Linked DNA regions of Homo sapiens: all the other regions are linked to region 4. Evidence: fine-mapped expression QTL. A gene starts in region 4. Each other region holds a variant in brackets. All regions are shown on one strand. Distances are from middle to middle. Region 1 has its middle 49 kb from the start of ZRANB1. Region 2 overlaps CTBP2 (C-terminal binding protein 2). Region 3 overlaps ZRANB1 (zinc finger RANBP2-type containing 1). Region 4 holds the start of CTBP2 (C-terminal binding protein 2).

What was found. PIP is the estimated chance that this variant, and not a neighbour inherited with it, causes the effect.
Region 1: its variant is the best candidate, but not a certain one, in a credible set for the expression of CTBP2 in nucleus accumbens (GTEx, PIP 0.51).
Region 2: its variant is the best candidate, but not a certain one, in a credible set for the expression of CTBP2 in whole blood (INTERVAL, PIP 0.59).
Region 3: its variant is the best candidate, but not a certain one, in a credible set for the expression of CTBP2 in cerebral cortex (GTEx, PIP 0.59).

What each region holds. Positions count from the first base shown.
Region 1 is chr10:124,888,892-124,896,593 of GRCh38, reverse strand. No RefSeq gene overlaps it. Among named protein-coding and RNA genes, the nearest start is that of ZRANB1, 49 kb to the left of the region's middle. The variant T/C (reference allele first, on the strand shown) is at 3,003.
Region 2 is chr10:125,004,540-125,012,241 of GRCh38, reverse strand. All of the region lies in intron 3 of CTBP2 (C-terminal binding protein 2), which reads left to right. Among named protein-coding and RNA genes, the nearest start is that of MIR4296, 24 kb to the left of the region's middle. RefSeq lists an enhancer at 3,885-4,390. The variant C/T (reference allele first, on the strand shown) is at 3,697.
Region 3 is chr10:124,958,101-124,965,802 of GRCh38, reverse strand. The region is part of intron 1 of ZRANB1 (zinc finger RANBP2-type containing 1); the gene reads right to left. Among named protein-coding and RNA genes, the nearest start is that of ZRANB1, 20 kb to the right of the region's middle. The variant T/C (reference allele first, on the strand shown) is at 3,676.
Region 4 is chr10:125,155,764-125,163,465 of GRCh38, reverse strand. It overlaps CTBP2 (C-terminal binding protein 2), which reads left to right and starts at 2,903. Exons shown (of 11, transcript NM_001329.4): 1 at 2,903-3,147. RefSeq lists an enhancer at 1,523-2,132.

The DNA of each region.
Region 1 (7,702 bases), 270 kb after region 4:
TTTGTCAACCTTAATCAAAATAATTTCCCTTTCCAAATTGCTGCTTTAGTCTGTGCTTTGTGAAAGGAGTTTTAGAATTTTGTTTTAATCTGAAAATCAATCAGCTAGAGAGGTGAAAAAGTGGAAAAGGAAAAACATGAGACATGTCTGTATTTTAAGAGATTCTGTAGCAAAAGCTTCGTACACCATACTCTATGGTTTCCAATTGAGTGCTAGAAAACTTCCAGAATACAACAGAGAAATTATCCCTACATGGAATATGGTTTCATAATTCCAACACACGATACATAATTCCCCCACATTGTTTCCTTAGTTTCATTCAGTAAAAATCATTACTGTATCTTTAGATAATAAGCAGTGAGTAGCCAGCTGAGTAGGAGAAGATACTGGTGTGAAAGAACTGTGATGTCTTGGGAAAAAATTCCTGGGCTGGGCACATTGGCTCACGCCTGTAATCCCAGCACTTTAAGAGATTCTCCCCCAAGCTGGGCAGATCACCTGAGGTCAGGAGTTCAAGACCAGCCTGACCAACATGGTGAAAACCCATTTCTACAAAAAATACAAAAATTAGCCAGACGTGGTGGCACATGCCTGTAATCCCAGCTACTTAGGAGGCTGAGGCAGGAGAATCGCTCAAACCCAGTGAGCCAAGATTGTGCCACTGCACTCCAGCCTGGGCGATAAAGCGAGACTCTATCTGAAAAAAGAAAAAAAAAAGCCGGGCATGGTGGCTCAAGCCTGTAATCCCAGCACTTTGGGAGGCCAAGGCAGGTGGATCACGAGGTCAGGAGATCAAGACCATCCTGGCTAACATGGTGAAACCCCGTCTCTACTAAAAATACAAAAAATTAGCCAGGCGTGGTGGTGGGCGCCTGTAGTCCCAGCTACTTGGGAGGCTGAGGCAGGAGAATGGCGCGAACTCGGGAGGCAGAGCTTGTAGTGAGCCGAGATCACGCCACTGCACTCCAGCCTGGGAAACAGAGCAAGACTCTGTCTCAAAAAAAAAAAAAAATTCTGGAGCACAAAGGATCTGGTTCATTTTTCGGTCATGGGAAGTCAGCCTCTTGCCCTACCGCTGGTGCTACTATCAGAGTGAATCTTCATCTGGAGCAATGGCTAAATTTAAATATAGTTACTGGAATGGAACATTGCTAGATGATGGATGTCAGCTACTCTGAAAGCAGAAAAGACAGGGCTGTGGCCTCCACATCCACAGAGCAGGAGGCATTGTCCTCTGGACCCCCCTAATTATGCCTCTGTCCCTGAAGCAACATGACAACTTTCCTCTCCATACCCTGCAATTCCTGTCCCACTTTCATAAGCTCCAGAACATTCTCTTTATTGATTACTTTTATGTATTATAAAGACAGTTGGTTTATTTTGAAATTTTATGCTGGGGATGGGGAGTGGAGAGGCTCCTAATGGGGTGCCCCTGCCTCTCCACTGTTTCTGCCTCGGCAGCAGGACAGCGTGGTGGCTCCAGGGTCACCTGTATAACACCAGCTGTGGTATTGAGCCAGACATTGCCTCAGGTGGCCTCTGTTTACTCATCCGTAAAATGGGGATAATAATACACTCACCTCATAGGGTTGTTGTGAAGACTAAACGAGAACGTGTGTGCCCCAACCTCAGCAGCGTGATGGAGAAAGGGGACCACAGGGCCGAGCCTCAGAGAATCTCCTTCAGGGCCTCCTCAGCCCAAACTGCTTCCAGCTCCTTCTCTGCACATGGGCCGGCCAGCCACTTCTCTCTAGGCCTCTTTTGTTTTTTTTAAAGGTGGGAGGGGTAGATGAGATCATGAATAAATTCCCTTCCAGGCATAAAGTTCTATCAACTCCTTTTGAAATGACTGACTCAGTGCAAAATATGCACAATTCTATAGTATATGACGCCGTGACCAAATCACAGAGCTTCTCTTTCCATAGATTAAGCGTACATGTGGGGCCTGGCACGGTGGCTCATGCCTGTAATTCCAGCACTTTGGGAGGCCAAGGCAGATGGATCAATTGAGCCCAGAAATTCGAGACCAGCCTGGGCAACACGACAAAACTCCTACAAAAAATACAAAATTAACCTGGTGTGGTAGTGCATGTCTGTAGTTCCAGCTCCTCGGGAGGCTGAGGTGGGAGGATCACAGGAGCCTACGAGGTTGAGGCTGCAGTAGGCAGTGATGGCACCACTGCACTCCAACTGTGGTGACAGAATGAGACCCTGTCTCAAAATAAAAACGAAAACCCTCCATGTGAGAAACTTGTGTAGGGCTCTAAGGCAGATAAACCCAGAGGGAGCTGATGGATCCCCTGATGAACAACGAAGTTTGTGTTTATGAGCCCAGAGGAATTGCCCTTTTACCCCAGTGATAAAGGATTTTTTTTTTCGGGACGGAGTCTCACTCTGTCGCCCAGGCTGGAGTGCGGTGGCACGATCTCGGCTCACTGCAAGCTCCGCCTCCTGGGTTCACACCATTCTCCTGCCTCAGCCTCCCGAGTAGATGGGACTACAGGTGTCCACCACCTCGCCCGGCTAATTTTTTTGTATTTTTTTTAGTAGAGACGGGGTTTCACCGTGTTAGCCAGGGTGGTCTCAATCTCCTGACCTCGTGATCCACCCACCTCAGCCTCCCAAAGTGCTGGGATTACAGGCGTGAGCCACCGCACCCGGCCTTTTTTTCGTTTTTTTTTTTTTTTTTTTTTTTTGAGAGAGAACAGTCTCGCTCTGTCGCCCAGGCTGGAGTGCAGTGGCACGATCTCGGCTCACTTTAACCTGTGCCTGCTGGGTTCAAGCAATTCTCCTGCCTCAGCCTTCTGAGTAGCTGGGATTAAAAGCATGTGCCACTATGCCTGGCTAAATTTTTTTTTTTTTTTTTGTATTTTTAGTAGAGTCTGTTGGTCAGGCTGGTCTTGAACTCCTGACCTCAAATGATCTCTTTGTGTGTGTGTGTTTATGTGTATGTGTGTGGAATGGATGACCCTCCCTAAGGGCATAAAGTGGGTACACCCACA[T/C]GTACATTGACCTTGATTTGTATCACATTTGACTGCTTGCAAAGCATTTTCACCACCATTATCTCCCAATTTAATGAACTAAGCCAGATTCTAGCAATTTCACAAGATCCGCTTCCTCCTGAGTAAAGCCTTTTCCAGAAATGTCAACAGTTCTGGAGAATGTGAGTATCTTTGGGTCATCAAAGTTGAGGCACCTTAACTGGGGATCCCACCAAAAGATTATAGTGGCCACTTTTGAGAACACATTTTTTCACTTACATTGTTGAATCATATGTGTGAGTGTGTTTGTGTAAGAGGCATATGTCATGGAGTTTAAGATGTACATTTTTTCACGTTTAATGTATTTGAATTTGGGATGCATCTCACAATACAGTCTTAGCTTTCTGCCTTAAACCTGCACACTGACTGGGTTGATAGTGTCACCTGGAACTTCAGAGTGTGACCTTATTTGGAGATAGAGTCTTTATAGGTGCAATCATAAGATGAGCTCATACTGTTTTAGGGTGAGCCCTAAATCCAGCATGACCAGATTCCTTATAAGGAGAGGAAAGGACACAAAGAAGACACAGGGAAGAAGGCCAGGTGACAACGGAGGTAGAGTTTGGAGTGATGTGTCTACAAGCCAAGGAACAGCAAGGATTACTGGCAAACACCAAAAGCTTGGAAGAGGCAAAGAGGGCTCCCTTCCTAGAGCCTCTGGAGGAGGCACAGCCCTGCTAACACCTTGCCTGCTGATTTTTAGCCACCAGAAATGTGAGAGTGGCCGGGTATGGTGGCTCATACCTGTAATCCCAGCACCTTGGGAGGCCGAGGCAGGAGGATAACTTGGGCTCAGGGGTTTGAGACCAGCCTGGGCAACATAGTGAGATCTGGTCTCTACTAAGAAAAAAAAATTAGTTGGGCATGATGGTATGCACCTCTAGTCTTAGCTATTCGGGAGGCTGAGATAGGAGGATCACTCGAGCCTGGGAGGTCGAGGCTGCAGGGAGCTGTGATTGCACCACTGCACTCCAGCCTGAGTGACAGAGCAAGAGCTTGCCTCAAAACAAAACAAAACAAAACAAACAAACAAACAAAAAAACCCAGAAATGTGAGAGTTCAGTTTCTTTCTATTGATTTCAGCCCTTCGTGTATGGGAGTTTGTTACAGCAGTCCTGGCAAATGAGTACACCCTGCAAAGAGTGTGCATGTACCTGTGCGTACACACACACACACACACACACTCTCACACAGGCACATATAGGTTTGTTTCTTTCTCCTTACTCACAAAAGAAGGAGGAAGGGAGCTGACGTCCCCTGAGCTGCCGATGCATGCCGAGCTGGCTACCCTCACAGAGGCCAGCTCACAGAATTCCTGCCGCTCCTGGCAGTCAGCACCCATTGACAGATAAGGAGTCTGACCACAGAGAGACTAAGCTGGGCCTGACTACAGGTCCCATGGGCTTCAGAGGTGGCATCGCCATTAGATTCTGGCAAGGAAAAAAATCATTTTTTTTTAAAGACGCATGTTAGGTAACCATGATATCAGTCTTCTGGGCATAAGAGAAATGGTGAGCATCGTACAAAGTTCTTACATTCAATTTGTTGAGTGCCCTGAATTTGTCTTTAAAGGATACATTTTTGCCACCCTTACCCCAGCAGTCTAAGAGTCAGAGAGCCTAGGCAGCCATGGCAAAGGGAATAAACCATCCTCGGAGCTGAGCTTCATCCTGGGACAAGCTCCAGAGTCCTGTGTCCCCACGTCTCTCCTCCCTACAAAATCCCAGGAGCTCTGGGTTCTCCTGAAGCCATTCCCTCCTCTCAGCCAGGGCACTCCCGTAGTCCTGCCCTGGGTGTGTTACGGTGCAGGGAATGCAATATGGTACTATTTGCATGTGTTTTTTTTCTTTCTTTCTTTCTTTTTTTTTTTTTTTTAGATGGAGTGTCGCTCTGTCACCCAGGCTAGAATGCAGTAGAGCTATCACAGCTCACTGCAACCTCCGCCTCCTGGGTTCAAGCAATTCTCCTGCCTCAGCTGAGTAGCTGGGACTACAGGCACACACCACCATGCCCGGCTAATTTTTTTGTATTTCTAGTAGAGACAGGGTTTCAACACATTGGTCAGGCTGGTCTCGAACTCCTGACCTCAGGCGATCCACCCGCTTCGGCCTCCCAAAGTGTTGGGATTACAGGTGTGAGCCACTGCGCCTGGTCAATGTGGTTCCTTTTCAAGGAAGGAAGGGAGGGAGGGAAGCATAAAGGGAGAGATGGGCCAGGGCAGTGGCTGACACCTGTACTCCCAGCACTTTGGGAGGCCGAGGTGGGCAGATCACCTGAGGTCAGGAGTTTGAGACCAGCCTGGCCAACATAGCAAAACCCCATCTCTACTGAAAATACAAAAAAAAAAAAAAAAAATTAGCCAGGCATGTTGGTGTGGCACGCCTGTAGTTCCAGCTACTTGGGGGACTGAGGCTCAAGAATTGCTTAAACCCAGGAGGCAGAGGTTGCAGTGAGCTGAGATCGTGCCACTGCACTCCAGCCTGAGCATTACAGCGACACTCCATCTCAAAAAAAAAAAAAAAAAAAAAGGTCGGGTGCGGTGGCTTGCACCTGTAATCCCAGCACTTTGGGAGGCCGAGGCAAGTGGATCACTTGAGGTCAGGAGTTTGAGACCAGCCTGGTCAACATGGTGAAACCCAGTCTCTACTAAAAAAACAAAAATTAGTCAGGCATAGTGATGCACTGCTGTAATTCCAGCTACTTGGGAGGCTGAGGCAGGAGAATCGCTTGAAGCCGGGAGGAGGAGGTTGCAGTGTGCCACTGCACTCCAACCTGGGTGACAGAGCAAGACTCTGTCTCAAAAAAAAAAAAAAAGCAGGTTGCGGGGGATGGGCAGGGAGAGGGAGAGGGAAGAAAAGGGAGTAAGCAAGGAAAGTGGGCTTAGCACAGGGCCTGGAACCTAGCAGATGCTGCTCAGTGTCTGCCACTCTACTCCCTGCAGGAAACAGGGCTGCATTTTTGCGCTTACAGAAAAGTCTTTCCCTTTACACCCAGGCATGAGAGGCCCTTTCCATGAGCCTTATACGTGACAAACATACACATGAAACACATGTATTGAGGAGCACCGGGGTGTTTTGGCCCCGTGGGATCCTGTACTCAGCATTGGCCCAGCACAAGTCAGCACTGTAAACACCACCAGCCAGGACTAGGATGTGTCAGGCCTGGAGAGATGCTTCTCCGCAAGGCCTGGCCCCTGACCTTGAACAGAAGGTGACCTTGTCTGGTCATCCTGGAGATTTGTGGGTTGTGGTGCTCCCAGCATTGGAGTCAGGCACTGCTTCAGAGAGCAGAGACGATTTAGCCAAGGGAAGACCTTAGGCCAGAGAAAGACAGGTTGTTCAATTTGTCAAATCGTCAAATAGCATAAATACAACCGATTCTTACTCATGGAAATATTATTTCCCAGTAGTCCTGGGTCCCTGCATTTCTTCTCCTCATGTTTGAATTTGGGCTTGGGAGGCATTCACAGATTAGTGTACATTTCACAACAGTTGCATATGGTCACCAAGGAACATTGTATAATATTACACAGTTCATATTCTTCTTCTTCTTTTTTTTTTTTTTTTTTTGAGACAGAGTCTTGCTCTGTCGCCCAGGCTGGAGTGCAGTGGCACAATCTCGGCTCACTGCAACCTCCGGGTTCAAGCAATTCTCCTGCTTCAGCCACCCGAGTAGCTGGGACTACAGGTGCACACCACCATGCCTGGTTAATTTTGGTATTTTTAGTAGAGATGTGGTTTCACCATGTTGGCCAGGCTGGTCTTGAATTTCTGCTCTCAGGTGATCCACCCGCCTTGGCTTCCCAAAGTGCTGGGATTACAGGCATGAGCCACTTCGCATATTATTCTTAAACGTGTCTATGTAGGGCCCAGATATAATATGTGTGAAGCATAATACCAGCTATTTATGTTACTCTGTGCCTCTAGCTATTGCTTTAAGAGATGAGAAAGATTGCCACTATAACTGATAGCAATTTACATGATAAAAATTAAATTTGTTACATATTTTCTGCCATGAAGATAATTTGTCACATGTGAAGGGGCCAAGGGAGAGCTTTCCCCTTGGTGCTCTAAAGGTTTGCTAAAAAAAAAAAAAAAAAATCAGCTCACAAAAGGCAGATGAATAGGAGAAAAAGGGCCAAGTGCAGTGACTCATCCCTGTAATCCCAGCACTTTGGGAGGCCAAGGTGGGAGAATTGCTTGAGCTCAGGAATTCAAGACCAGCCTGGGCAACATAGCAAGATCCCGTCTCTACCAAAAAAAAAAAAAAAAAAATGGCCGGGCGCGGTGGCTCACGCCTGTAATCCCAGCACTTTGGGAGGCCAAGGCGGGCGGATCACAAGATCAGGAGATCGAGACCATCCTGGCTAACATGGTGAAACCCTGTCTCTACTAAAAATACAAAAAATTAGCCAGGCGTGGTGGTGGGCGCCTGTAGTCCCAGCTACTCGGGAGGCTGAGGCAGGAGAATGGTGTGAACCTGGGACGCAGAGTTTGCAGTGAGCCGAGATCACACCACTGCACTCCAGCCTGGGTGACAGAGCGAGACTCCATCTCAAAAAATAAATAAATTAATTAACCAGGCAAGGCACATGCCTGTGGTCTCAGGTATTCGAGAAGCTGAGGTGGGACCAAGAGGCGAAGGCTGCAGTGAGTCATGGT
Region 2 (7,702 bases), 150 kb after region 4:
CCACATCCTGTCCTCCCTCCCGGAGCCCAGGGACCACCCATGTGAGGCTGGGCCACTGGGGAAATCTCGCACACGTAGCGCGTCTCACCAGAAATAGAAGCAGAGCCTCACGTCCTTGGCTGCTTCGCTGTGGGAATGCCTTCTAAGGCGCCGTTTTTGGTGATGTCCCTTCACGGATCTTTCAGGCCCAGTGAGTCAGCAGTGTCTGCATTCACACAGGCTGGGTGGGGTTGTTGGATCTGCCCCGGGTGGATGGCACCTGCTCCCTCAGGGCAAAAATTCACCCCAGAACATGAGCTGCACCCGGGGTTAGGTGAAGGTGACGGAGCCTGAACACTCAACACCAGAGGCAGCCAACAGGACGGTGTCTGGGCTTCCAAAAAGCCACCAGTGCCTAAAAACACTTTCAAGCACCTAACATCACTCTTGGTTTTGTTTTTATTTTAAACTCCATTACAAACCGGGAAATAGCTGTCACTTTCCTGTGTTCTGGGCCCGCTGTGCTCCTCCGTTCCGCATAGCGCGGACACTGCAGGGTGCGGGCTGCAGCTTCCCCAGGGGCTCTGAGGAACCCGTTGAAGTGACTGCACGTGCTTGTCTTTCTAGGGTTGCAGATGAGCTTCGTTTTCAGGGGGGTTTGTATTTTGTGTTTTTTCTGAACTTGATGGTGTGGGTCTGGACATCTCTTTCCAACCCTGGAAGATACCACACATGCTCTTCGTTATTAACATGATCACCCAGAAAGCTTTTGGGGGCCTGAGAACATGGCCCAGGCTCTGGGGAGCATCAGACTGCACCTGACTGGCTGGATAAAGACAGGGGTACCTGGAGCCTCCTGCCTCGCCAGCTCTGTGTCCAGCTGTCACCTGAGCTACAAGGGAGATTACCTGGGAGCCTCTCATGTGTCACATCGTGACTCATTCAGATACATGTTTTATTTAAGAAGCAAATCTATTTATCAGGGTGTTCCTGTGGCCATTTCTTCACCAAACCTCCAGCTGACTTTGCAGAGAATGCCAAACTCAGAAGCCGAGGAGTAGCTTAAAACTAGGTTCCCCATGGGGCACATCCAGCCTTCTGGGGAGCCCACTTGGTGTGGGGCACCCCAAACAGCACAGCCCCTGGGTGCTCAGAGGCCTTGGTGAAGCTAGATTTCCCAACACTCGATTTTTTCCCTCCTTACAGAAAAGCAGGGGGAACTTGAGGGATAATTCACATGAAACCTTTGCCATAAACCCTTTTAAATTGTTCACAAGTAAGAGCCCAACTTTGGAAGATTAAGATCCTGGCGTTTTTAGTGTGAGGAGTGGGCTGGCTGAATATGCTGCAGATTGTGAGCTTTTTCCTACCTGGTTGTACCTCACTGGAGGAAAAATAAGGATAATCCCTATAGCTGCTAAGGATGTACACGGTGATGGCACAGCCATCACCGCTTTCTAAGTTTAGAAGGTGTGCTTCATGCTTTAAATTCCCCGGCACTCATTTTGTACCACGCTGCTCTCTCATTCTCTCCTCATGCTGTCTTCCAGTGCCTGGTTCAGGCCAGTCCTTGTCCAAGGTTGAGTTAAATCATTTTCAGCTGGGCCAGGTCTTCAACAGCTTGGTGTGTGTGATGCCACTCCAGGGCTGAGGTCCTGGCTTCAGGAAGAATGTGGGGATCGATTAGTGATGTCTGCCATGAATGCAGAAAGAGAGATAAGGGTTGCGCATTTGCATTGCATGGTGGGAGGAGGAGTGTGCACATGAGCCAGGGAATCTGTTGGGCGTGTCAGGTGATACTTAAAACTCAAGGATTGGGTTCTCCATTCTGGGGGAGCACATACTACCTATACATTACTGAGACTGTAAAATGAAATCGCAGCCTCTGGGAAGCTGGGCAAAGAAGTGGACGCAGCATTGGGAGAGCTTCCCAGAAGCAACACAGAGAGAAAGCCCATTTGCCAAATGAAAAAGCAGATAACAACGTAGAAACAAAGCTGAGATTTCCAATAGCAGTTGCTTTTTTTTTTTTTTTTTTTTTTTAACCTTAAAATAGTGCCACTCTTAGCAACACAGATTTTCTTCCAAATTATGCCTTGAAGCTGCTCCCGGAGCCACCCGCTCATCAGCACCCTGCTCCTGTGGTCCTTCTCGTGAAAGGCAGAGGGGAGATGCCTGTTGCCCGCAGTCTTCTCTGCAGCTGCCGTGGGAACAGGCACCTTCCCGGCTGCTGGGGACACAAGGAGGGGGAGTCACCGTGGCTTGCTCACTTTCCAGATCAGCCAACTGCAGAACATTTGTTGTTGTTTAGATCCCACGTCTGACGGTTTAGAACAGCTTTTATAACATGGTTAAACATGTTTACAAAGCAAGGGAGACATCTCTTACCTTGACAACACGAGGCTCCCACAGACCGCCTTCCCCCACTCAGAGCTCCACAGCCCTGTGTGCTGGGCTGGCCTGTAGACCCACTGAGGCAGCTGTGTTTACAAGTCTAACGCCAAGTGTCTGAGAGGCACTTGCGTACGTCCCAGCATCAGAATCTGGCCCCCAGCTTGGCCCTGTCACGATTTTCAGTTTTATGTTGTAGAAACCCAAGCCTCTGAAATAACACTGTTAGCAGGCCTTAGTTCTGATTCTGTGTCTGGCTTTCTAGAAATCAGGTCTGCTGAGCTCAGCCAGTGGGGATCGGGTCATGCTGGATTGCAGAAAGCGGCCACTTAATTGGGGAGCAGGCCGCATTTAAGAGGAAGCTTTTCTGAGGGTGGTGGGATCGGTGGGATATTAAGTGGGGCTTCCTTGGAGGCAGGCGGGGCCTCAGGTTCGGCTGTGTTGGGTCACTCCCTGTCCCGCCCCGGCCTCTGGAGTTTGTGTGGTTTTGTCTCCTCTTTCTTCCTGGATCATTGTGCATGAGGCTGGGAGCCACACCGGCTGCTTAGGCTCCTCCTGCCTCCCAGGCCACCTGCAGGTCACAGGGGCTGATGAAGCCGTGAATCGCTTGGCTCTGTTTGGAATGCTCGTTCCCCGGTGCCATAAAGAAATAGCACTTGAACATAAATTTAATTTACTTAGTAAGGCCATTTTTACTTTCTGCAGAAAGGGTACACTCTCCAGCAGTTTTCCCACGAGAGTTCACCCAACAAAGGACACAGGGTCATTTATAACCTGACACGTCCACCCTACCGCTGTGTCCAGTTTCCGTTGGCTGGAAAGGGACCTCACATTCTCTATTTGTCCCGATTGGCTAGCAACTTAGAACTTTTTTAAAGAGGCAAAGGTAGAGGGGAACAAAGGAAGGAGGAAGTAACTTGTGGAATGTTGAGAAAGGTAAAAACACCTTCAAATAAGGAAGAGGAACAGGCTATGACCTAATGCTTGCTTGGACCAGTATAAGCATGCTAAGGCAAATATTTAGGCTAAATTGCGGGAGCTAAGAACATAACGTACATTGATTTCCTTATTACGGCTAGCAAATATTTAAGAATGTTAGCACAGATCTTTGAATAAATTTTGCCTCTAAGAGAAGTTAGTATTTATTCCTAATTAGACGGGGAGGAAAGTCTTTGAAGAGGAACCTCTGCTTTACTCTGTACAGCTCGGAGCTGCTTGCAGCACTCTGACACCTTCTGTCGGGATCTTTGGAAGACCTGCCTGGATCTCCCGTCTGTGGAAGGATCCAGGTACTTCTTACAACATCTGTGTTAGGGCAGCTGGTGA[C/T]GGCACCCGGCAAATTCCAGCAACTGCCCTCATTCCACAGAGGCTCCCTCCTGCAAGGCCACTACTGTGACTCTGAGCAGCGGTTCTTCTCATGAATGTGATAGCTCGGTCAGCTCTAAGACTGCAACCTGCAGGGACTTCATGGGGCAACCCTGGGGTATGTGGCCAGTGTCTGTCCTTGGGCAGCCGTAGCCCCTGTCAGGAACAGGGAGTGACTCAGGCACTGGTGTCTTGAGACTGCTACGGTGTCAGGAAACTTCCATAAAATCTAGTGCGTTTTAAAAAAAGAGGCCAGAGCCGGCCAGGCACGGTGGCTTATTGCCTGTAATCCCAGCATTTTGGGAGACCGAGGCAGGTGGATCACCTGAGGTCAGGGGTTCGAAGCCAGCCTGGCCAACATCGCGAAACCCTGTCTCTGCTAAAAATACAAAATTAGCCAGGCATGGTGGCACATGCCTGTAGTCTCAGCTATTTGGGAGGCTAAGGCAGGAGAATCACTTGAACCTGGGAGGTGGAGGTTGCAGTGAGCGGAGATCGTGCCACTGCATTCCAGCCTGGGCAACAAAAGTGAAACTCTGTCTCCAAAAAAAAAAAAGCCAGAGCCAGCCTTTGCCTCCTATGTCAGAAATGATCATTTGCAGCTGCTTTGCTTTGGGGTAGAAGCCTCAAATCCTGAAACCCTTTACCCTGGGGCAGGTTGTCTTGTGCTGTAAGCAACAGAAACCCATTTAGATCATTTTTAAATAATGAGAATTTCTGTTGGAAGGATGTCGGCTTAGCTCACACAGTGTCTAGGAAGACTGGAAAATGGGTCTCAGAAACACTGCAGGCAGCTTTGTGTGGCAGGATCAATCCAGTTCCTTCTTGGTGACTGCTCAGGGGAACATCCCATTTGCCTTGCATGGTACTGAGCCAGAAGGTCAACTCCAGGCCTGTCTGCCTGTATCCGAGAAAGCAGCAGCTCCCCACAATGAAATGTAGCGTTTTCCAGCTCCGGATCCTTCCGCCATCCTCCCTGAGATCTACCTGCCTTAGGATCTGTGAGATCCACGCACTTTGCTTTTCCTGGGTGTCTGGTTACTGTTCACAAAAGTCCAGCAGTTTGGCCTGGTGTTGTCTTTGTTTTTGACTGAGCATCTCTCATTTCACAAGTATTTATTGCAGCTGCAGCTCTAAGCAATACCAGGCCCAGGGATGGGCGTCAGCACTGCCTTGAGCTGGTGCACAGCACATCCCGGACGGAGGGGCAGGGCCGTCCTGGTGCACACGCAAGCCTGAAACCAGATAGTAATTGATACCAGGGGAGCCGGCAGGGCTTTCTGCTCTACACAGTTAATGTGGGCAAGCTGTCAACAGTAAGGCACTGATGTCATTTCCGTGATGTGTCCAGTTGCAGCTGGAATTGTCCTGAAATGGACAAGGCAGGTTTACTGGCGGGAGACGGTAGAAAGGAAAAATAGCGCATAGAGGGCACCAGGGCCCTGTGACCCTCGTCCGCAAGTGTCTCCTCATACCTCGTGGTTGCGCACCGTGGTACGGGGCCACCCTGAGCGCTGACTCCCGGGCTGTGAAGTGGGAAGAACAGCAGCACTGCAGGACTCTTGTCAGCCTTGTGGTCTGTACGCATGGAAAAGGCCGTCAGCTGTGCATAGCAACTGGAAGCCATGGCTTTTTAGCATAAAGCCCAGTTCTTCGGAAGCCCTCATTACGTACTGCGCCTTGGGCTTTCTCCTCGCAAATTCCCAATCCTGCCCCACTGGGCCTGGGGACCCCACGTCCCTGAAAGGGTCGTGTTCCATCTTAATGTATATGAATCTTACTCTGTGTGTCAGTTACATCCTAATAGGTTAAAAACTTGCTCAAATGGTCAGAAGCCTGAAAGAGGCGTCAGGAATCCTGTGTGAGGTAAGATGGGGGATCTGTTTGCACCTTCATCTCTCCATATGAGATCTTCCATATGAGCTCTTCCAGAAACCTCTGCCCCAGGCTCCAGCAAGCCTGTAGGGCAGCGGCTGCTAGGCAAGGGCTTGAATTTCAGTCCAGATTCTCTGGTGTGTGGGTGGACAGTTTCCTTCTGGGACTGAAGGAGCACTTGGAAGATGGTGCTTTCCCTTCTAGAGCAAACCTTGGCATTGTCCCAGCTAAGCTCTCATGCCCAGGGCTTGGGGGTCTCCTGTGGCCTCCATATCCCTGCACCTCATGCAGGGCACGCAAGCATCCCACCCACTCCCAACCCCCCACCTCCAGCCGTCGTGCCCGGCATCTTTTCCCAGCATGAGAACCCGTTGGCTTTTCTCTTTTCCCGCCTTGCCATGAAGGACCTGCTGCCAGGATTCGAGCCTCAGACCTTGGACAGGTCTCGGGCCAGCCTCAGCCACGTTCTGCGTGCCCGGCCATCAGGGAGGGTAGAGGGTGGGTTTCACCAAGGAGAAAGGCAACCCGTGTCGGGGAGGGAGCCGATCGCTAGGCAACCTGGAGTTTGTTACCCTGGTAACGGATCCATGCACTGATGATGCTGCGGATGGACATCTTGTGACAATGGCCTCTCAGGCTCCCCAGACGCATCAGCGGCTCTGGATTCCCACCTTGCGCCCAGCGTGGTTTTCCTGTGTGGCTACCATTTAACGAACAGCTTGGATTTCTTATAATCAGGCACTCTCTCCGATAACCATCCTGCCAGCACCCCTGAAAGTGAAGTTGGGGTGTTCCTCACTGTGTGTGGGCGACCGCCTGGGGCATGAGACCAGGACTTCCAGGCCCCACAGGGTTGTGCGCTCAGACCTCAAGTAGGGGCCAGAAGAGTGTACTGAAACAGAAGGAATCTTGTGGAATTTGGCAGTTGTACCATTTTCTTAGCAGAAAACAGGAGCCCAGGTGGGAGCCATGTGTGTCGGGTTCCTCGTCAGGTGACGGTGCTGTTGCGGATCTCGCGGATGAGCTGAGGGGGTATCCAGCTTTGTGCTGCACGCTTCCTGTCCACTCATACAGGTCGTGGGCTGGTGAGGACACGGGGGTGTTGGCCCTCGTCCCTGCCTTATTTTCCCCCTCCCCTGCCCTGTTTTCCTGGTGCAGAAGGATGTTGGAGTGCGGATCCATGCGGACACCCTGTTTGGGGACCTGGGTGTCGGGGCAGCAGCAGGAGTGACTGGGTGCACGTGTGCCTTTGGTGTCTGAGCGTCAGGTGCAGCTGCCGCTCAGGGCTGAGAGGGGCCATGATTTCTCCCAGCCGGGGGTGGCAGGAGAACTGCACTTAGCTTGGGGGCCATGCGGGGCTGGCTGTGGACCTGGCTACCCCAGCCCATTCTTCTGAGGCTGGGACAAAAGCCTTTTTTGTACTTTGTGCTCAAAGAGACAATTATCCCAAGTCCCACTGGCCGAGCACGGCCTTCCATGCAGGGCTGGTGCAGGTGCTCTGGGCCGTCCCTCCCCAGCACCGTGTATAGTCTTAACAGGATGCAGTCACGGCCCCAGTGGAGGGGGATTTCCTTCCTCGTCTCCGAGCGTGTGGCTAACGGAATATGAGCCTTGGTGGTCCAGCAGGAGCCCCCCCGTGGCTGGGGTCCCAGTCATCGTCCCCACCAAGTGGCCAGCTTGGGGACTACTAAGAGCCCTTGAGGAGGTTAGGGATGGAAGGCGAGGCCACACAGATGAAGTTGGCCTTTGTGGAAGGCTCCTGCTTTTGCCTGTGGGACCCTGAGCCTGCTGCCTTGTGCTCAAAGGCCAGTGATCCCGGGAATGTCACACCTTCCTGGTTGGGTTACCCATGGTGGGTCACCAGGCTGGGCTCAGCCTGGAGCAATGGCCTGGACCGTCCAGCCTCAGAGGGAGGGAGGGGATGGGGATGTAAGGCCGCCGTCAGGGTTGATCTGGATATCTGAAAAGTTGATGAGCCCCAAAGTTTTAATCTGAGGCTAAAGAGTTCTAATTTGACAAGAGACATTGCCCCTTCCTGGCATCTCGGCGGATTGCACCTCTGGAACTCAGGTAGTTGTTCTCTTGTGTCCAG
Region 3 (7,702 bases), 200 kb after region 4:
AGTCTGGTAAAGTATGGGTATCAGCCTGGGCAAAGAAACAGTAGATTAGCTTCCAATTTACCACAAAAAGTGTTTAAAACAATTTTTAAAAAATTATTTATGGGACCAAATACTTTTAAGTGTTTCCTAAATTACATCAAGACAAATGTGTTTGCTGGACAGAACACTAATACTAGGTAAAAAAATATTCTTAGTGTACTTTTAAAAGAGTATTTTAATTGCCATCTTGAACTAGGAATTAGATCAGACATATTCCTTAGAATATAACAGATTGATAAAATGCAACAATTTTCTACCATTAGTAAAGATAACAAGGCTTCAAAATAATTCCCACATTTACTGAATCCTCATCATATACAGGAACGCCTTGCCAGGCAATATGAGAAGTACAAAGACAGTGAAAACATGACTCCAATATTCAAAACAGTCCTTTCTGCAAATTTCGATCCTCTCCTCAAAAAAATGACCCCCTGCCCCGAACACAGACATATACATTCTTCAGGTTGAAAACCCATTATATTAAGAATGCCTTCTTACAGGAATTCTTATTTTCACAGCAATGTAGCTTGATAAATTCCTCACCATGCATATACAAGTTCAGCTACAAATGCCCCACCTCCACCCACCTTACACATCCTTCTGAGGAACAGTGTACCCTAGAGAAGTCAAAGCTAAAGCTTAATCAAGGATGGCATGAGATAAAGGCTATAAATCTTCCCAAAGGGGCAAGCCTTTCAAATAGACCAGAAAGTGCTACTTGAACTAAAAACAACTCTATGATCGAAGAGTTTTCTGTTTCCAATTATTATGTTCAAATACAGAAAGAACTCTGAAACTTCTGCTTAAATTATTTAATGAACAATTAAGTATAGTCTGGTAGGGCCCATAACTTTTAAGATAATTCAATGCAGTTTTATTTTATTTAGGACTGACCATGCCCACACCATCTCCTTTCACTTCATAGCATTTCTGTATGAAGGCAACGACCTTTCCCTTCAGACCTATCAAAGCCCTTGACTATTCTCAGGTATACATAGCATCAAGGCACCTTTTATAGTCTTTAGTTCTAATCTAAAAATATTATCTACTTACAAATTTTTTCGTATTACATAAAAAATGTTCCAAACACTTCCAAAAACAACCCAAGAGTCTGATCAATTTAGCTGAAAAAGCAAAGAGGAAGATCTGTACAATTTATGTGTATATACGTGTATGCATGTATGTAGGTGTTTTGTACTATATGTGTTCATGTTTATTTCTTATTTCTCAAAGACAGAGATGAGGTAATCTAAAGCTAAGCACCAAATAACTTCCTTCTTTTGCTTGGAAGAAGGGGAGATCTTCAAATCGCTTTATTGTTTTTAGCTAACTCACCATATAGCTGAAGTCTAGAAGAATCTCATCTTAGAAATTCTTAAGATTTCCTCTCTAATGTCTCTGAGAGATTTCTGTAATTAGAAGTTAATGAGCACTGGGGGGTGGGGTGCAGACTACATAGCACAACAAAATCAGCAGACTGTACTTTGGAACTATAATGTACAATAATATCACCAATTCTGCTTTCATTAAGTGCTTTTTAAAAATATAACCAGAACTTACAATGTTGAAATGCATGGTATGTGAAATTATGTCTCAATAAAGCCGATATACACAAACACAACTAGGATTTCTATTTGACCTAATACAAAATTATCAAAAACACTTAATTAGTCCCTCCTACTCCATGCTCTGCATTAAACTACAAACGGGCATACTGCCCATTCCCCAGCATGGCAGACATACAGAAGATGAGGAGAACAGACTATTCTCAGTTTTTGACAGCACGAAATTCTCCAAACTTCCCAGAGCATGAAAAACACACATCACTTAAATATAGGTAAAAAATAATATCTAAAAGAAAATTATTTTATTATCTAGTGTTTGGGGAATACGTAATTTCATTCTTTTCATTAAGAATTGCACATTTTCAGCTACAAAGATTAGTAAATTACAAATCAAATTTCATGAAAATGTCACTGAACTGTCCCAATTTTTGCTACGTCTTTATTGCACACTGCTCAAAGAGAACTTCTGAAAGTTTAGACATTACTTCATAGACACGTTTTTGTTGTAGACGTGGTTGGTTCAACAGGATTTGGCCCATACGCATATAATTTAAAGTTTTAGCCACCGCATGTTTTCTACTTAAAGTGAAGTGCAGGGAAAAAGCATCATAATACATGCCCAAAAAAAAAAAAAAAAAAAAAAACAAACAAAAAAAAAAAACCTTACAATATCTGAGTTCTTCACATAATTACACTTTGAGCACCTTTTAATGTCAGGGGATAAAAAGAACGTAAGAATAAGGTAGAAGAGTTGGTAGACAGGGAAAGACAAATAAATGCAAGTGTTAAAATCTCACTTTATGGGAGAAAGGCCAGGAAAAAATGAAAAGTTCCAAGAGAAGATAATCAACATATACATGTTTTCTAGGTTACTGACATCTCACAATGCCTCCAAGAGTAACTGAAGCATTTTTTTTTTTTTTTTTTTTTTTTGAGACAGAGTCTTGCTCTGTCACCCAGGCTGGAATGCAGTGACGCGATCTTAGCTCACTGCAACCTCCACCTTCCGAGTTCAAGCAATTCTCCTGTCTCAGCCTCCTGAGCAGCTGGGACTACTGGCGCACACCACCACACCTAGCTAATTTTTGTATTTTTAGTAGAGACGGGGTTTCACCATATTGATCAGGTTGATCTCGAACTCCTGACCTCAGGTGATCCACCCACCTCGGCCTCCCAAAGTGCTGGGATTACAGGCGTGAGCCACCACGCCCAGCCAAAGCATCTTTCTCTTAGTACTTTTTTTGAAAATTTAACAAACGTGTATTATGCCTTCTGTCCCTTTCTCCTTCATGAAGACAAATAAAAGGACAGCTGAAGCCACTCTGGGACGATTAATTTTATAAAACTAATCTGTAGTATCACCATACATTCAAAATTGAATGAAATGCACAATTAGCCTAATAGTGAAACATAATTACAGATAAAGTGTTAATACACTTCTTAAAACATGAAGGCCTAAGAATGAAAGCCACTATATTATATATTACTAGCTAAACCGTTAAAAAAAATAAAAAGCAAACATATATTATTCCGTAAGCTGGGCCAGGAGTACAGTTTACGTATTTTGAAGCCACAGGTCAATGACTCACTGGGGACTTCACAGCTACTATGGAACTCCACTGGTTAGAATTTAGAGCTGGCTCATAGATATTTAGAAAACAGACTTATTTTTTCCCCCATATATGGCACAGTTTTCAAAGTTTTGCCTTATTTTCCTTTATGACATAAAATTATAATGGTTATTAACTTTGAAAAGAATGCCAAATGGTAAAAAAAAAGCCAGGACTTACCTGAGCCCACATGGGCCAGCCCAACACTACCCTGGAGTTCTATGGTAGCTGTGACATCACAGCATGGTTTATGCTGTGGGGTCAGGGTGGACCTGGAGTCGGCTGGCACAATTTCAGGAACCCTTAAAGAGAAAAGTTAGTTTTAAGTGGTAATGTTCAGAATGTCCTTTACCATGGTCAGAGAAAGATGCAGATGTGGTTTTCCTCTAGCCAGAGTTTAACTCATTTAACCGGTTTTCATATTAAAAGGAAACTATACCACCCAGTAATACTTTTTTATA[T/C]CATAAGCATTTGGCTATAGTTTAATCCTGAACCTGGAGATATTCACAGCAAACTCTTTCAAAACTAATGAGCTGTTTTTTAAATAAAATGACTTCAATATTTTTTAAAGTGTACCTTCAAGTAGGCAAAAGCACAGGAACAATCTCAGAAATAATTTGAGCAGGCCAAAACACCTCCTGGTTGTATTTTCCACATAATAATAGCAACAAGTTAAGATCCACTATTTCTATTCCTAGTAACAGTGCTACAAAACAACAGCCTATTCAAAAAATCAGATGAAAATCAAAATTATAAACAAATTCTTAAATTTAATCTATAACATATCAAGACTAGCTTCTATTCAACAATCTCACTGTCCATTACTAAAACATCCTCTTTAGAAAAATAAAAGATTCAATGAGAGAAGGAAGTCAAATAGTCACTAATTAAAGCTTTCTAAATTATCTGTAAGTTGTGACAAACTATGTCAAATATAGTCTATACTACTGAGCTCTTTTCTCCTTACATCTTTGATCAGAGTGTTAACAACCCACTCTTGTGAAAATATAAGTCCCCAAAGTCATGAAAAAATACCTAACCTAACAGATAACTTCGTAAGAAAGAAGATCCTGCCAAGCAGGAAGAATTGCTGCTGAAAGCAACATGGCAGGACTTAAAGGAAACATGCCACAAAGTTATCTTTGGGACAAGTGATCAGAGATGGGGACAAATGTTAACAGGGCTGAAACAGATGAACATGAGTTCACATCATGAGTCACTTAAAACATTACTGAAAATATTCAACTGAAAGGAAATTACGGTTCTTAAAAATCTTAGGTTCCAGCTGGGCTCAGTGGCTCACGCCTGTAATCCTAGCACTTTGGGAGGCCGAGGTGGGTGGAACACCTGAGGTCAGGAGTTCAAGACCAGTCTGGCCAACATGGTGAAACCCTGTCTCTACTCAAAATACAAAAAAAAATTAGCCGGGCGTGGGGGCGTGCGCCTGTCATCTCAGCTACTCGGGAGGCTGAGGCAGGAGAATCGCTTGAACCCAGGTGGCGGAGGTTGCAGTGAGCCGAGATTGCGCCACTGCACTCCAGCCTGGACAACAAAGAGCGAAACTCTGTCTAAAAAAAAAAAACAAAAAACAAAACAAAAACTCTTAGGTTCCAAAAGTAGATTTTGAAACTCATAAAATAGTGTATGCCAAAACCACATTCACCACTGAAATCACATCCAAAGGTTTTTCTGACTTCAAAATAAAAATTTCAATTGCCACACTGCCAAGTTACCCTGGCTGAATTTGAAACTAAATTTTAGATTTTTATAATTACACTATATCTCAGGTAGGCCGAGAGAAACTGAATAGTCTAGCCCACCTTTTTTTTACTAGAGGGTAAATGAACATTTTAAAAGTGGAAATGGGAGGCTGGGTGCAGTGGTTCACACCTATAATCTCAGCACTTTGGGAGGCCAAGGCAGGAGAATCGCTTAGAGCCCAGGATTTCAAGACCAGCCTGGGCAAGATGGTAAGATCTCATCTTTACAAAAATTTTTTAAAATTAGTCAGGCATAGTGACGCATGCCTGTAGTCCCAGCTACTTGTGAGGATCACCTGAGCCCAGGAATTCGAGGCTGCAATGAGCTATGATCACGCCATTGCACTCCAACCTGGGTAACAGAGTGAGACCCTGTCTCTGTTTAAAAAACGAAGCAGGGGCAAGGAAGAAAGGATAAAAGGAAAAACTTTCATAATTTATTATAACTTTATACTGTTCATATTATATACATTTAATTCTTCTAGACAAAAGTAGACAGAATTAAGACAGAAAATCATCAAATTGGAAGAAATGTTCAAAAGTAACCCAGTCAATCTTACTAAGGTCTCCAATTAGAAACACTAAACAAGAAAGCTCCTATAATTTGCCACTGAAAAAGAAAGTTCATGGCTTCTGTAGACACTCACAGCCCCACAAGCATCCATCCCCAAAAGTTTCAGACCCCATGTATCCAATAATCCATCAGGCATCCTCACCACAAAACCTCTTAAAAAACCTAAACTTTCCCTCTCCTATGTCCAGGAAAAATGATACTGTTAGCCAACCCAGATGTCCAAACCAAAAATCTGGCTTTCTAAACTCCTCCTCATCTCAGCCCAGTATCAATTCTTCCAAGTTTTGCCAATTCTACTTCAGTCTTTTTCAAATAAATCTCCCTTTCCCCATCTCCACTGACTCTACCCCAGCTATACCTGGCTATACCTAAGTTGCTATCATTTACTCTACTGGTCTGCCATCTCAAGTGTTGCTCCCTCTACACTAGGGTGAGTGTGGTCTTCTTAAACTACAAATTTAATTACGGCATTCCCTTTTCAAAAGTTGACCACTAGGCTGGGCGCAGTGGCTCACACCTGTAATCTGAGCACTTTGGAAGCCCAAGGAGGGCAGACTGCTTGAGCTCAGCAGTTCAAGACCAGCCTGGGAGAAACCCAATCTCCACAAAAAATTTAAAGAATAAGCCAGGCGTGCTGGCATGCACCTGTAGTCCCAGCTACTTGGGAGACTGAGGTGAGAGGATCCCTTGAGCCCAAGAAGGTTGAGGCTGCAGTGAGCCGTGATCATGTCACTGCACTCCACCCAGCCTGGGTGACAAAGTGAGATCTCATCTCAGGGGGAAAAAAAAAAAAAGTTTACCACTGCCCTCAGGTTAACAGCTAAATTCCTTAACCAGGTTAAGGAATTAACCTATTTAACCAGGTTAAATAGTCCCAATATTCCCTACAGGTTCTCTCTCACAGTCCTCATTCTACACTCCAACCAACTGACTTCTCTCGGGTTATTTGACATGCCTTGGTCTCTCCACCCTGGATTTTTAACACATAAAATTCTCACTAATAGAAACACTATTCCTTCTTCTCTTTCAAGTTTCAGCTTAGATGTCACCAAAAGTCCTCTCCAAATCTCCTAATGAGATTAGGTTCTATGCTCCTTCTAGGACCCTGTACTTCCTCTGCTGAGCTATCCTGGCTTGCTAAATTCTATTTGCCCTATAAACTCTTTGAGAGACATGACTTCTTTCAAAGTGCTTGGGAGCACACTCAGGGAGTACCTGAATGCATGAATGAATGAACAAAGAAAAGGTAAAAGCTAAGACAATTTTTCAAAGTAACTGAGGCCAGGTGCCAAGGCTCGCCGCTGTAATCCCAGCAATTTGGGGAGGCCGAGGCCAAAAATGATTTTATGTTGCCCAGACTGGGACTGGAGATGTGTATTTTTCATATAGATTTCATGTAACTTGATAAAATCACCAAAGAAAGTGAACGAAAGTGAACAAAAGACATGAATCAACAACTCACAGAAAAAAATACAAATGATTAATAAAATGAGACAGCATGCCATTCTTAACAACAAACATCAGCAAAGACAGCTCCACAGGGACTCCCAAACTGTTGCTAATAAAGAACAGGTTAATTTAAGGTGCAGCAATTCAATGTCATATTACACATTCATTTTTAAAAGGTAACATGTTGATTCAAAATATAAAGTTCAATGAAAAAGGATATACAATATAATCTCAACTATGTAAAAGTAAATAAATGCAAAAAAAAAGACTGAAAATACACAAAAAATCTGACAGACTTCCTCTAGGCAGTGAGATTACAAACTATTTTTATTTTTTCATAGCTTTTCTTATCTCTGAAATAGTCTACAATGCATATAGTCTGCTTTTCTTTGAGATGGAGCCTTGCTCTGTCGCTTAGACTAGAATGCAATGACTGATCATAGCTCCCTGCAGCATCAAACTCTTGCCTCAAGCAATCCTCCCACCTCAGCCTCACATACCTGGGACTACAGGCACCCTGCCACCACACCCAGCTAAGTTTTTTATTTTTAATAGAGAAGAGGTCCCGCTACGTTGCACATGCTAGTCGCAAGTTGTCTGCCTTTATTATTCAAAAATGAACTAAACTATCAAAGATCGTTACAAGAAGTCAGTACAAATGTCTAAATTTGGTGAAAAAGAAATAATATATTTTCATCAACTGAG
Region 4 (7,702 bases):
CCGGTGACAGACTGAGACTCCGTCTCAATAATAATAATAATAATTATACTTTCTCTTTTTTTTTTCTTGAGACGGAGTTTCGCTCTGTCGCCCAGGCTGGAATGCAGTGGTGCAATCTTGGCTCACTGCAACCTCCACCTCCCTGGTTCAAGCGATTCTGCTGCCTCAGCCTCCCGAGTAGCTGGGATTACAGGCATGCGCCACCAGGCCTAGCTAATTTTTGTATTTTTTTTTTTTTAGTAGAGACGGGGTTTCACCATGTTGGCCAGGATGGTCTTGATCTCCTGACTTCGTGTTCTGCCCCGCCTTGGCCTCCCAAAGTGCTGGGATAACAGGCGTGAGCCACCGTGCCCGGCCAAGAACATGTTAGTAATACTTTCTAAGTCAGAATTCAAATTTATAGAACACGTGAAAGTGAAGGAGTGATATGGAAAATCAGGCTTTTTGTGGTTTCTTCCTGAGAAAAGAAGACCACTCAGAACCAAAGACTTCTGTGAAATAAGGAAGCAGAAAATCTTTATTTGTAGTTCTTATAGTTTATGCCTAAGAAACTCCGAAGAACAGGTACTGGTAACCCGGTAGCCTGGCGGTGGCCGCGGTTTGTTTACAGCCAAAAACTAGCTGAGGCGCCATGCCCTTGAGGCAAAACTGCTGAAGAGAGAAGCACCCTGAAGATCAGTTTGTGGAGATCCAGGGTTGCCAGAAGACGAGACAACCGTGATTGCATGTGCGGAGGTTCCTCGATGGAAGCGCAGCCCGGCGCGCCCCTCAGCTGGCCTGGCCAGGCCCTATGAAGGTCACGCGAAAACCCTGCTGCGGGCTTCTTAGCGACCGCATTACGTGGACTAGCGGGCAAGAAAAGCCTGGTCGGCGCTGCCCTCACAGGTAGGCGGTCTTCAATCACGTTTTAAAATCTTGTTGAGTGATTAAGCAATCTTCGATAGTCCCGGCCCCTCCACTGCAGGCCGCTCAGGCCGCAACGCACCTGGTGCGCTTTGGCAAACAAGCCCCGCGGCGGGCTGGGGCAGGATTTAAGAAATGTTTAATGAAGACTGGGAGGCCTGGAGCAACGCTCTTTGGGATGCAGAAAAGGGTCGTGCAGCTCGGTGGCCTCTCCTCCGGCCCCCTGGCCCTGGCTGTAAGTTTCCTCGGCTCTGCAGGGCGCGGGGCACTCAGGGATGGAGGAGACCACACCGCGCGGCTGGGTTCGCGGAATGGCGGTCCCTGCGGCCTCCAAAGGCGGGACCTCAGACCCCTCCCACTCCTTTCCTGCTCGACATCTCAATCCAGCTCCTAATATCTCAATAGGGTTTTTAAACAAATCGATCCTAAGGGCTCAGTTCAGCCCACCCAGGGATTCTTGGAGGACGCACGCCGAACTCAGGGTAGTGAGAAGAGTTTGGGGGGCCCTGGGGCGCAGGGAGAAGACCCCACACTCCACGGCCACCAGCTCCCTTCCGGAGACGGCGCTCGGACGTCGCGGGTCACGGGCGGGGAATTTAGCCCAGGTGCTCGTTGGGCCGCGAGCGGCCGCTGGGCCTGGATTCCCAGGCTCGCTGTGCAGACTCCAACCTTGAGACGTCAGGACGGCGTGGGCTCCGGGCCGCCGCGCAAGCCCAGGACCCCGAGTCGCGGGCCCCCACGCCGCAGCGCGCCTCCCTCCTCGAGACCCGGGGCTCCGACCCAACACAGGGCTTCTCAAATGCCCCGGCGAGATCCAGGCAGCAAGAGGGAACCTTTTTTTTTTTTTTCAATGTGTAAGAATGTTTTGCTTCTTTTAGGGCACAGCACTGCTGCAACTTGCAGCACAGAGGGCCCTTCCCTGCGCACCCACAGCGGTCGCCGCCTCTCCGGCACGGTCTCCCGGATCTGGATTTGGGGAGCGCAAGTGCCCCCTGTGGCCGGCCCGCGCCTGACCCCGCGGGCCTGAGAAGGCAGAAGCGGCCGGTGCGGGGCACCAGGAGGAAGTTGGAGCCCGGGGGCCGGGAAGGGGGCTGGTTGGCGCCGCTGGCTGGGCGGGGCCCCATGGGACCGGGGCCACCCGGGGCTCGCGTTCCCCCACGTGGCCGGCTGCCCGGTACCCCACGTGGAAGGGGCGGAGGAGGATGAAGGGCCAGGGGAGCAGCGGACCCCGAGCCACCGCGACAGGACCTCGGCCCCTGCCACCGAGGCCCCCGCGCCTCCCGAGGGCCTCCCGGGCGGGGCCGGGCTAGGGAGTGCCCGCCGCGCCCGGCCCCTGGCCCTCCCGCCCGCCGCGCTTGTGTGCACTTTCGCGGAGCCACTAATCCCCCGAGAGAGCCGATTTGTAGTGAGGAGTATCTGAAGGGGGCGAGGCCGGCCCATGTGGGGTTGTGTCATTGGTTTGCAAAAAGAGACCCCGCCTTTGCCCCCCCCCCCCAAAAACAGGAGCGAGGAGTGAGCGAGCGGCGACCCTCACCTCGCCTCCCGCCTAGCTCCTGCGCAGCCAGCGGGTACCGGGAGCTGCGGCCAGCGCCGCTTCTTTCCTTTCCTTTTCTCTCCGTTTTCCTTCTCCTTCCCCGGAGGAGAAAACAAATAAAGAAGAGCAAATAGCCGGGAGGCGCTCGGCATCCAGGACGTTCCCTCCCCCGATCCAAGTTGGAATTAGCATCCTCTCGGGGGTGAGCGCGGCGCGGGGCGGGCCCGGGCCGGGGACCCCCAGCGCAGCCCCCTCTCGGCGGGCGGGAGGGCGCGGGGCCGGGACGCGGGGGGAATTGGGAACCGGGTGGGCGGAGGAAGGGGGTGGGGTGGGTGGGGAAGTAGGAAGAGGCTCGGCGGCGAGGGGAGGAGGTGGAAGGGAAGGGAGGGGTAGGGTGGGGAGGGGAGGGGAGCGGAGGGAGGGTGGGGAGGGCGGGAGGGGGAGGGGCGGGGAGCTGGAGAGATTAAGTTTTTGTGTGTGTGTCCCTGTGTGCGTGTGTCATTTTAAGGTGGCTCGGGAGCGGCCCGGAGGAGCCGGCGGCGGCCCGAGGAGCGAGGGACCGAACCGGGAGCCATGCCGCGCTGAGGGGGGGCCGCACAGCCGCCGCCACCGCCACCGCCGCCGGGTGGGGTGGGAGGGGCGGGAGACGCCGCCGCCGCCGCCTCCAGGGTGGGCGCCTTTCGCCGTGGACGCCGACCGTCCGGGACGAGGTAAGGGGGGCCCCGGGGGAGGGCTGGGGCCGCCGCCGCCCCCGCCTCACCTGCGGCCGCGGGCTGGGGGCGCCGCGCCCGCGCCTCACTGCGCCACTCAGGGAGGAGGAGGAGGAGGAGGAAGAGGGCGAAGGACGCGGAGCCGGCATCCGAGGACATCTTTGGTCCGTGCCCCCGGCCTCGTGTCCCCCCTCGGCGCCCGGGGGTGGACGCTGGCTCGGGGGTCCCCGCCCGCCCCCGCCACCGATTGCGCCCGCTGGCCGCCGTTTGCGCCAGGATTTTTGTTGTTGTGATGAGAGTTGATGAATGCGAAGTAGGCGGTCACCTTCCTTCCCATCAGGGTTGAAAAAAAAAAAAAAAGAAACCCCGAGCGCGGCGGCGTCCGGAGGGCAGCGGCGGCGGCGGCGGCGGCGTCTCGGCGACGGTTCCCTGGGCGCCCCCGGCTCCTGCTCCCTGAGCCCGGTGGGTGCGCGCCCGGGGGCCGCCGGCGACCCAGGCCGAGCGCGCGACGCGCCGCGGGGACAATACGGCCGGATCTCCGGGGAACAGGAGTCCGAGCGCGCCGGGGTGCGGCGGGCCTTGCGCCTACGAGGCGAGGGTGGGGGGGGCGCGGAGAAGAGGGGTTCCGTGGGGAAGTCGGGGCGTGAGCGGCTCTCGGTCCCCAGGGGCGCTGCCCCTGCCGGCGGGGGATCCCGCGCGGCTCCCCGGGAGCGCAAGTGAAAGACGGGAAAGGAGGCGAAGTGGAACCCTTTTGTTTTGCCGGCCCCGCATTGTTGGCTCCTCCGGGCAGCCGGGCCACATCTGCTGCCGCTGCCGCCGCCGCCACTGCCGCGCGGGGCTCGGCCCGCCAAAGTCGCGGCGGGGCGGGGGGCCTGGGCGGGCCGGGCGGCGGGCGCGGGCGGGGGCCGGGCGGGCCGGGCATTTCCTCTGCCCGGCCGCGCTCCCGCGGGCACCACTTCCTCCTCGCCCGCCGCCGCCGGGAGCCCGGCCCGCCCGCCTCCCCCACCTTCCCCGCCCGGGCCGCACTTTTCGGGTGGGGCGAATCAAAAAGAAAAAGTTTAGCAGGAGGGGCTGGCTAGGGCGCGCCCCGGGCGGCAGGGACCCGGTGCGGCGCAGGGACAGCCGGGCCGCCGCGGTTCCTCCTCCTCCCAGCCCTCCGCGGCGCCGGACGGCCCCGCGCGGCCGAGGGGAAGCGCCTTTCTTTCTCTCCCTCGCGCTGCCCCCAGCGCCCCGGGCGAGTTGGGCAGAGGCGCGCGGGAGCCGGGGCGTGCCTGGGCCTTTCTCCCGCGGGAGGCCCAGCGGCGTGGCGGGTCGCCTGCAGCCCACGCCGCGCCCTGGGGCTCGGAGGCCGCGGGCCCAAGAGCTCAGCTCGGTCACCGCGGGCCGCGCCGAGACACACACGCGCGCACACACTCCCTCCCGTGGCTCGCTTTCCGCCGGCGACGACGGTCGCGGACACGGAGTGAGCGTGTGCGCGCGAGTGTTTGTGGTTGTCCCCCCTCCCCCCGCCCGGTACTTTTTCCGGAGGCGGCCCAAGCGGCAGTTGGCTGCAGAGGACCCCACGTTTAGGATTTTATAGGGAAGAGGAGGAATTTTTCGTAGAAATCCCCGCTCTGCGTGCTCGTGGTGGAGGCTGCTGGCAATGGCCTACGTCGTCATACCGGGCTTCCTTGCCCTGTCCGGGGTAAACAATCCTTCTGTGTATTTACCCCCTTTTTTCTTTAAAGATTGGAGATCGGGTTAAGTTCTTAGAGAGTCTGATGCGAGTGGCTGGAAGGATAGACAAGAGAATTCTATTCTATAAATATGCATTGGGAATTTAAAATGCTAAACGCCTTATTTGCAATTCTGTTGGATATTCTAGAGACTGGTATATTTTTATCTGACATGGATAATTTTGAGGGGACGTTATATTTTGGGGAAGTTTACAAAGTGATTCTTTCTGCCTTTCTAACTTGGGCGAAATATATCGACTCATACCACCCTTTCAAAAAAGATAGCTTTCTCTACTAGGTGTTTGGGTTCGAAGACAGTTTAAAAATTACCTCGTGTTCAGTACCTAAGATTGCTGTTTTGCCTCGAGGGTTTTCCAAGTAGAAGTGGGTAGTTTTCATGTACTTTGAGAATTCTGAGGTTTTTAACCCCCCCCTTTTTTTTTAAATATAAATCTTTTCTATTTTGAAGTAATGAGACTTTAAAGGATCTTGTTTTTGTAATCACTTGATTTCAAAGGATACTTCTTACAGCAATTATAAAGTAATAGTCAAAATGCTAATTAGACATTTTCAGTCATAGCTGCTTTAATGTTGAAACAGAATTTTTTTCTTTAGCAGAGACTGTATCGTAGAGTTGAAACGCTAAATATTCTTTTGTCTGGCATCAGATCTCTGAACTGCTCTGACATTCTCCTGAAAAACCCCTAGTGCCCTTTTTATTGCCCCCAAAAGAAAAGTTAATGAGATGGTAGATTTCAAGCAAAAAAACAGGCCCTCTTTCTTGCAAAATATGCTTACAGTTGCCATTGAAGTTGGATGTTAGCCGTGAATGCACTTGCCTTTAATGAAACCAGTTTAATCGTTCACACTTGATCAAGTATAACATGAGCAAACAAAGGAAATAAGCCAGCATATTTCTGTAGAGTGTAAGTGTTGATGTTGGGTCACCCCCTCCCCCTACCCTGCCCCCCTGTAAAAGGGAGAGAGGGTTGAAGGCAAAGGGAATTTATGGCGCTGATTGGTTTTTTGTGCCCCAGGGGTAGGGGACCCCAGTTACATCCCTGTGGAAAGCAGTTATTAGAGGGAATTAAAAGATCTTGGGTTTGGAGCTTGTTTTGAACCTGACTAGGTGGTTTGGGTTTAATTCTTTTTCCTGTTCAGAAAGATAAGGTAAAGAATACCGACTCCCCCCCGCTCTTTTTTTTTTTTTAACCCCCACCTGACAACCCCCTCTCTAATTGTACCTTAATAAGAGTCTGCAGGTTGAATGCAGAACCCTGTGAGTTATTTACGGTTTCGCCTGGGAGCTTTGAAACTGACCCTTGAATGGGTGTTCTCCTGCGGGGAGGGGCAGGGTGAATTACCTTTTCTTAACTGATTTTAAAAAGCCTCATTGTCCCTAAAAATCATTTCCTTGCACGAGTTGCAATTTATGTGTGGAACTGAATCATCAATTCCGTGAAGAGAAAGATATTCGTAAAGTACATCTCTCTAAAGTTAAGAAAGTAAGAACGTTTGGCTAGTTAAAAACAAACACTACTGCCATTGTAAAAAACACGCCAGTGACATACTTGGTGAGATATTTTGGCCTTTTGAGAGTCGGGGCACACCTGTTCCTGTCCCTGCCAAGTTGTGTGTGCTTTCCCTGCCATTGTTAATCTGGTCGTGTACACAAGATGAAACGGTAAAACTTGCTATCTGTATAATTATTAACTAGTTTGTCAGTTACCCTTTCAGAGAATAATCAATAACTTCAGTCTTAACTTTTAAAACTCCAGAAATTTTACTTTTTAAGTCTGGAAAATGTTTCAAAGAGAGATTAAATGAAACAAACAAACAGCAACAACAAACAACAAAACCAGAAAATCAACCTACAACTTTTTAGTTTCTGAGTAGCCAGCTACAAGGCAAAGAAATGATGAATATATATAGTATGTACTGAACAAGCAGTGCACTGGATTTTAAAATGATATTTTTATTGTTACCATTGCTGTTAAAATACAAACAGCTCACACTATTTGAAATCCTTGAGATTCACGGATTGAAAAAAAACCGAAAAGGACACCTCTGAGTGAGGGAGTAGCCCTGCTGAGATCTAGCACCAGAATGCCATTTGCCAACAGTTCACTAACATCATGAATCATTTTTGAAAGCAAAGTTATACCCTTTGCACTTAACGCTTTCCCTAAATGGAAAAAATTTAAAGAGTTTACAGCAATGGTAGAATGGCAGCCCCAGTTGTCATTTTTTTACCACTGTCATTTCCATAGAGAGGGGCTGTCATCATAATGTATGTGCATGCAGCCTGGGTCCCTCTGTTAATCTATCAGGGAAAAGCAGCAGCCCTAGTGTCCTGTGGCCCTGAATCAGGCCACAAATATATATTCATACAGCACATGGTTGGGAAGGGAAATTTATCAGTTGGGCAGGGCACAGCTCAGGTAATATTTCCACTTTGGGATGGTAGGTCTGTTACACAGGGTGGAACATATTTTTGTAGTAACTAAAAAATGGGAGGGCAGTGTGTCTGTCCCTGGAAAAAGAAGTATTTGTACTTAATGGAAGTGACCCATGTGGTGAAATCTCGGGGTGTCTTTTCCCCAGCAATCTTTCTATGAATTGCTAGGGGAGGAATGCTTGTGTGAACTTACCCTGCTGAAAACTTTTAGTGGGCACATGAAATGCTGGAATGGATACACTTTTAGAGACTGTGCGGCCTGGCAGATATCAGTTTTCTCCCTTACAGCTGGTAAGCATGTCTTAATTTACGCTGCTGCAAGTTAAAGTTACAGCACTCCTGGAAAGAAGGGAAAATGCAAGGCTTCTCCTCCCCACCTCAT